Homo sapiens: one gene and its partner. The protein of the gene in region 1 purifies or fractionates together with the protein of each later gene. This does not show direct contact. Each region holds a gene or a part of one and is shown in the gene's direction. Other genes may lie near its edges. The genes, in order: LRATD1 and NMT2.

Region 1 (4,007 bases):
CTTGGCATTTCAAAAATAATGCAATAAAAACTAGTTGAGGTTAGCTGAGGCTGGAAATGCCTTTTTCATGGTAAATGATTCACTTCTATATTTTTCTTTCTTTTTCTTTTTTTTTCTTTGGTTTTCATCCTGGATTCATCCCCTGATCTTAAATCAAAACGTCAGATCAATGAACTATGAACTAAAGTATTTTTCTTAAGCCTATTGAGTGATTTATTTTTTAAAAAATGTTTAAATGCATATGCTTTTCTTTCAGCACAAACAACAGCAAAAACTTTTGTAATAACTAACTTACCTTTGCATGTATGAAGAACTGAGTCATTTATTTCCCTAACTTACTCCTCTTTCAAGTAACAGGTGGCAGATCATAAAATGAATTCTTTATTGTATCTACACACTCCACATTCTTTACTGTGTCCTACTACTGTATCTTGGCTCCCTGCTGTATTAAACACCATCTTAAGCACTTGTTCCTGCAGGACTCCTTCTTGACATTTTGTCTCCCCCTTCAAAGTCACTCAAAGAGTGGGACTTCATCAAAAGAAATGAATTAGTCTCTATCACACCGAATACTAAGATTTATTTCCTCTGATGGTACATAGATTTCTCTCTCACTAAGAGGGTCACTCTCATAGAGGAATGTCTTGTCAGTTTTATACTTGCTGAGGCTAGACTGACAATAAAAATGAGCTGGGCAGTTAAATTAGCATTTGTTACTATATTGGCCTATAAAGGATCAGGTTGATGATAATACCTCTAAAAATATGCAATAATAAAACAATAGTTATGAAAGAAACTTGAAAGGTTTGCAAGGTTTCTCCTATCCCTGTTAAAATTATCATTTATTATCTCTTTGTCAGTGTTAGTAAGGTAACCCATGACAGAATAATTTGAGTGATAGTTCATCATGCAGAGGATATGATCAAGATATTACCTAATGGTTTTATCCTGAAAAAGGTGTATACTTTTAGGGCACTGTTAACAATGCGAGTGAAACCAAGATGGTGCAAGTTCCCTTTGCAGATGGCGTGGGCACACTTGATTTTTATTATGAGTGAATGTAATCTTTCTGTATTTTACCAGAGTTACAGCAATTACCTGAAAAGTTTCCTAACATTTTAATAATGTTAGGGATTTCGTTTTGGTTTTAGTTGTCCTCAAGAGACAACAGGTTCACAGTAATTTCCATGATGTTGGGTGTGGCTAAGCTGGGGATTGGTTCTGTTCCCCCTGCTCCCGTGTAGAGAAAAGCTATATTTATACTGCATTCTTTCTCAACTTTCAGGTAAAACAAACTATGATTTAAAAAAAGAAAAAAGAAAAGACAGGTACTTTTACTTCAAAGAGTGCTTTGCTACATTTTTATTTAAACCAAAAATCAAATAAAATAAGGAGGGGGGCTGGGTATACTTTAAACAAAACCAGTCCTGAAATGCTGTTATTCTCAAAGTACATTCCAAAAAAAAAAAAAAAAAAAAACTATAGAATTTACGTATGTTACATTTTTAAGTATGAGTTAAATTGATATAAAGTGTTCCTCAATATTTAATAATGTAAGCTGTTGTCATGACAGTATTTTTTAAAAATAATAACGTATATTATAGTTACGAAACACTTGTGCCAGATTAGAACATCAAGCACAGAAGCAGCTGTATGATTTACCTGTTTTTTTGAAACTTTAATGTTTACCTTCCCCTATGTTTAATTTTTCTGTGGTGAACACTTTTGTTAGAACATGGCTTTTTTATTTTTCTTGGAAAAATATGCTATTAGTATTTACAAAATAATTAATTACCTGAATAAGCAGTATATACTAAAAGTCTTCAAACATTACTTTATTGATTACTTATGTTTTGTGGTGCGCTTTCAACATCCCTAAGAGTTAAATGTCTTAGTCATCTAATACATGGAACAGGGTCAAACTTCAATGAAATTAATACTTATTGCACAATCATAATATAGCAACCTAATTTTCTTTTATTTATAGGCATATCTTTAAAGCTTTCTTCTCTTTTTTGAACAAATGAAGAGAATCCAGTTAGTTTTTGCCTTTCAGAGGTGATTTGCCACGTGCACAAAGGGTCTGTAGGTGAAAAGACAGGCTTTTGGGTTTCTTGAAACATCAAAAACTGAATTTAGAGAATGGTTATCTAACACTCAAGTCAATGTTTTTTTTGAAATTACTAGCTATTGGTATAATATACATATATGTACATGTATACATATACATACACACATATGTACATTTACACATATGTAAGTATACACTCATATACATATATACACATGTATATATACTTGTGTACACATACATTTTTGCCTATAGCTAGCAATTATTTCATTCAGATACACACACACACACACACACACACAGGCTACTTAAAATAGAGAGTGACTTGAGATATACAAAAACAGGAAGAAAAGCCCTGGAGGTCATATAGCTAATGTATAACTGCACAGCAAGCAGCTATGTCTAAAGCTAACAATAAAAAGAAAATGTGGGAGTTGTGCAATTAGTTTTATTCTCATTTTTTGGAAGAATATGTTCCTGGTTTCTCTAACTAAAAGGAAAAAATTCAAAGGAAAGTTGTAAATATTAGGAAGTAACTGAAAAATAAGAAGCAAGATAAAGTGGGGAGGCTATGAGATCATATAATGAGCTAATAAACTTTTCAACAGGGGACACCTGTTCTCCCTTCTAACTGAAGACACTAAAGAGAAGCTAAGATCCTATCTTTCAATCATTTAGTAATTCATAAAATCCCATTATTTCATAACTCAAAGTTTACCTTTGAGGTTGTATGTTTACCTCATTTGAACTCGAAATAGAAGAGGTTTAAGTATTTGAATAAGTTGGGAAAAAAAGGAAAAATAGTCTTCCCTGCCCTTGTCACTGATGGTGACACTACTTGTAATTACTGTATTTTTTGGCAGAACACTCAGATGAACAGATTCCTATGCTGTGGACTTTTATCATTCTTTTTGATGGCTGATAGTAGAAAGCACACAGTAGGTACTCCATAAATGTAAGACTATGGCAGCTGTCTAGTACAAGTGCTTCTCACTGATTCTTGGTTACCAGGAAAACCAGAAAGCCCGTCACTTGCCTTGCCTGCAAAGGCGAGCCTAAAGAAATTTCTCTAACCAAAATTGGCAGGTTCTTTCCACCACAAAAGGCTCTTGGAAATATAACTTATGGGGCTTAAGGCTAATTTGAGTTGAAGGGTATTTGTAATATTTGATTTGCTTTTAGCAGAGAAAACAATAAAAGAATCCAGGAAAAGTAGAAAATGTTCTCTTGTCATTTGGTCAGAAAGGGAAAAGCGAAGGGAAAAGCAAAATAGTTCCAACTGTAACTTTCACAACTTCATCTCTCATTCACCTCAAGGAGAGATTTTTCTCGCATGAAATCACAAGATTATTCCTTCAGAAGGAAGCTTATTGTAGCTCTTGCTAAAAATTTTCTTTGGTATATGGGAATAGATTTACTAGATGTACACTTAACTCTGGGAAAATTAGATTTGATGGAGTTTGGTCATGGGTGTTTTTCTAAATACACATTACTCATTTATATATTAAAATAATTGCTATGCCTCTTGGCTTTTATAATCCAGTTCTTAATATGAACATGAGTTCTGAACTTTATTTTGTCCAAAGGATAGATACTTATGAAATACTAGGTATGAATAGAGTCAGTGTCCTAAATTTCAAGCACAAAATGAATGCTTCAAAAGTTACTTTGAGCATCATTTAATGTTTCAAAAAATTGAAAAAGATCATATAAGGCTATTGCTTATATGTATCCTAAGGAAATTCTTGCCATCAATGGGTGATACAGACATTAATGTTCTATTTGAGAGCTTCTTTATTATAAGTACACTGACATTTACTTTAGCAAATAAGTTATTATTCTAAATTCAGTTATTTTCCCTGTGACAGCCCTGTGACATACCAGCTCTTTGCTCACTTCCAAGTCCACTGTAGATTTCAGATTCTGCAAGGGGGTG
Region 2 (3,824 bases), on another chromosome or scaffold:
AATTAAATCAAGAAAGAAAAAGTACCATGACAAATTCATTATAGTCATTGTAGTTCTATTTTTATAAGACTGGGCTCTACTTTGCCATTTTAAGCTAAACTGATGCACAGTTAAGCATTATTAGTTGAAATATGCTGTGATCTCAATTCCTATTTAAATTGTAAGGTCTTCTAATAGATGGTGTTGTTGGAGTTCAGATACACATGAATTTCATTTTGCTAGAAATTTGCTCCTTTTAATGTTGGGGACTTAAAAGACACCCAAGGAAAAGAAGTCATCCAAAGATATAATAATGAGAACCGGAAAAGTATTTTGTTAAATTTGTATGTGTCATTAAGATAGGACCTTTATGATTTTGATGTTAAACAAATGTAAGATAAACAGCTTACAAAAACTGTGGCCATCTTGGATTGTGCTGTGAGACTTCCAAGCAGAGACAAAAAGACTTTCACCTGCCTCCAGCTGGACTTCAGAACTTCGTTTCCTTAGGGTTCTTGACAGTGTTTGTATGAAACAAACCCTGTTCTGTGCTGTGTACGATGAGTAAGCTTCCCAAGTTAAAATTATTGCTCCACACCACAGATTTCAGATTCCAAGTGGAACAGAAGTCCAAAGTTGCTGTTTATAAACTTCTAAGGGTCGATTGTACCTTTCAATGGTGTCCACCCTGTGTTGACATACAGCAAAACCGAAGGGCTCTTGAAACTTCTAACCACTTTCTGAATTACAGCGAAGAATATTCTTTGCATGGTATCAAAGTTCTACAATGTCTCAGTAATTTTACATATTGAAAAAAGTCATTGATTTCCATATTCAGTCCTCTGCGCTGTCTTCTCATTTCAAGTAGTCTCATGTTCCATGTATTATTACGTTATTTGAGGAATTAAAAAAAAAAAAAAAAGAACTGGGGAATCTCCAAGAGCTGGCGGGAATATTGGCTTTGAGAAAGGAACCTTAGAATTCAAACGTAATGTTTTACCTAAAAAGGAGTCCAGTTTCCAACACTTGGGCTGGGAACGACAGGCTATGGTTGCCCAGGATCTGAAGTACAGAGGAAATTGCTTGTCCTTCTGGTGGGAGAGTTTGTCTCTAGAGGATCAGGAGGATCAGGAGGGTCAGGAGAAGGGCAGGGTGTGGCCGGGAGGAAGGGGCATGGTTAGAGATTTCTTTTCTTGATCATTTTCATCCCAGTTCAGCACTGAGTTCAGATTTCCCTTCCTTCCTTCCTTCCTTCCATCTGTCCTTCCTTCCTCCTTTCCTCCCTCTCTCCCTCCCTCCTCCCCCTGTCCCTCTCCTTCCTCCTTCCTCCCTCTCCCTCTCTGTCTCTCCCCCCTACCTTCCTTCCTTCCTTCCTCCCTCGCTCCCTCCCTCCTTTTTTCTTTTCTTTTCTTTCTCTCTGTCTCTCTCCCTTTCTCTTTCTCTCTCCTTCTCTCTCTCTCCCTCCTTTCCCTTCCCTTCCCTTCCCTTTCCCTTCCCTTCCCTTCCTTTCCCTTTCCCTTTCCCTTTCCTGACAGAGTCTTGCTCTTGTCACCCAGGCTGGAGTGCAATGGCGCGATCTCAGCTCACTGCAACCTCCACCTCCCAGGTTCAAGCGATTCTCCCTCCTCAGCCTCCCGAGTAGCTGGGATTACCTGCCATCATGCCTGGCTAATTTTTGTATTGTTGTAAAGACAAGGTTTCACCGTGTTGGCCAGGCTGGTCTCTTAACTCCTGACCTCACGTGATCTGCCCACCTCGGCCTCCCAAAGTGCTGGGATTATAGGCGTGAGACACCACTGCCGATCCTCTCTCTTTCTTTCTCTCTCTCTTTCTCTTTCTTTGTTTTCTCTCTCTCTCTTCTTTCCCTCCCCTCCCCTTCCCTTCCCTTCTCTGCTGTGTTTCCATTCTAGAAGTTCTTTCCTTCATCCCCTCGTTGCTCCTGCAGAGCATTTACTCTGACAGTGCCCCCCACCCAAGGCTCGTGGCTGCCTGGCTGTTGGATGACAGTAATGCATGCACTGCACGTCTCCCCCAGAGGAGTAATGCCGGGGACCATTTGTAGATGGATGGGAAACTGAAGCAAAGCGTGCTTCAATTTAGATTCCCCAAACTGCCAGAGCCCCAATAAAACTAGACAACTGTTGTTACCTTTAACAGAGGGTTTGCTTCTATTTTCATGTGTAACACACAAGCCCATGGCCTTGACTGGGCTTGGAGGAGGATTGTTAGTGTTTAGGTATTGTAGTCTCTGAGGCAGATGCACGTGCGTCTGCTCAAGTTTAACATCAGCAGCCGCTCTCTCATATTCTGTGTCTGTCTTTGCTGTCGTAGAATCCCAGTGTTCCAATGCAGAAGTTGCAGGATATCCAGAGAGCAATGGAGCTGCTATCCGCATGCCAGGGCCCAGCCAGGAACATTGATGAGGCTGCAAAGCACAGATACCAGTTTTGGGACACACAACCGGTACCAAAACTAGGTAAGTTTTTCTGCTTTTCTCTTTTTTTCCCCACAAACAAAGCTGGATGAACAACAACAACAACAACAACAACAACAACAAAACACAAAGAGTGTTAACTTCACATGTATCATTTATTTCATACCACAGATTGGAAATCTATGCAAGACTAATATTTTTCTTCTGAAAATATAAATATTAGATAGTGACATTGGCTTTTGATAACCATTATTTTAGTCCAATTTCTATCCCAATAAAAACATCCAATTTCCCCACACTTGAAACATTACTAGTATTATTATTATTTTTGAGATAGGGTCTCACTCTATCACCCAGGCTGGAGTGCAGTGGCATGATCATAGCTCACTGCAGCCTCCACCTCCTGGGCTCAAGTGATCCATCCTCCCATGTCAGCCTCCCATGTATCTGGGACCACAAGTGCACACCACCACACCTGGCTAATTTTTGTATTTTTTTGTAAAGACGCTGTTTCAGTATGTTGCTTGGGCTGGTCTCGAACTCCTGGGCTCAAGTGATCCACCTGCCTTGGCCTCCCAAAGTGCTGGGTTACAGGTGTGAGCCACCGCACCTAGCCCATTAGAGTATTAAAAATGTATATAAGGTTCTGTGATGGAAGGACCAGGCCCTGAAGGTCCCTCATGGAGCAGGTGTCTGTTGAGTGTCTGTTATTAAATGCCAGGCATAGTCCAGGGCACACACCTGGAAACAGTGGTGGAAAAGTAGGACAAAAGGTGGCCAGGCTGGGGAGGAGCGGCCACACTGAGGTAGAGAAAGGCTTTAGTTAAGCAACAGATGCTGGGAGAAAGTGACGTGTGATGCGTAAGCTTCTGTCGGGAATTCCAAGGGGCCCGTCCCTTGAGGACCAGAGGGCCTCAAGCCTAAGGAAGGCACCAGGAAGGCCCTGAGCTGAGGCCTGCCCCGGTCATCATGGCCAGAGCACTGGGAGCAGGGGGCAGGGAGGGTGTGGAGAGGGGCCGAGGCAGGCAGCAGCCATGGGGAAGAGCCTGGGTTTTAGTCCTACCATGTTGGGAAGCTCTGCAGAGAAGGACTTGGAAAACTCTTCTTGGTGGAAATCACTAGAAATTGTGATGGCCTGAACTACGCTGCTAGCAGTTTAGATGGGGAGAAGTAACCAGCCTTGAAATTATTTTTAGGTTTTGCTGGGAGGGGCAGAGGTCACCGCAGCCCTTTCCTCTCCCAGTTTGTGGAAATGCAGTAAAAAGAACACACCTCCCAAGGCTGTTGAATGAAACCTACATTGCTTATGACAGTGTGTAAGATAAGGCTGCATTGTAGGCCTTGAGACTCGGAATCACTGTTGTTTTGTAATGTCATCTTTGTCACTGGATGACAAAGGATTTCTCCTTTC

Evidence for each region.
Region 2: the proteins of LRATD1 (region 1) and NMT2 purify together in Homo sapiens (affinity purification with mass spectrometry; one large-scale study listed by BioGRID and IntAct). This does not show direct contact.

The regions. Positions count from the first base shown.
Region 1 is NC_000002.12:14,636,756-14,640,762, forward strand, and holds the end of LRATD1 (protein LRATD1), read left to right. Parts: 3' UTR 1-3,286; downstream 3,287-4,007. UniProt on the Homo sapiens protein: May play a role in cell morphology and motility.
Region 2 is NC_000010.11:15,133,905-15,137,728, reverse strand, and holds part of NMT2 (glycylpeptide N-tetradecanoyltransferase 2), read left to right. Parts: exon of another isoform or gene 1-2,310; coding exon 2,311-2,455; intron 2,456-3,824.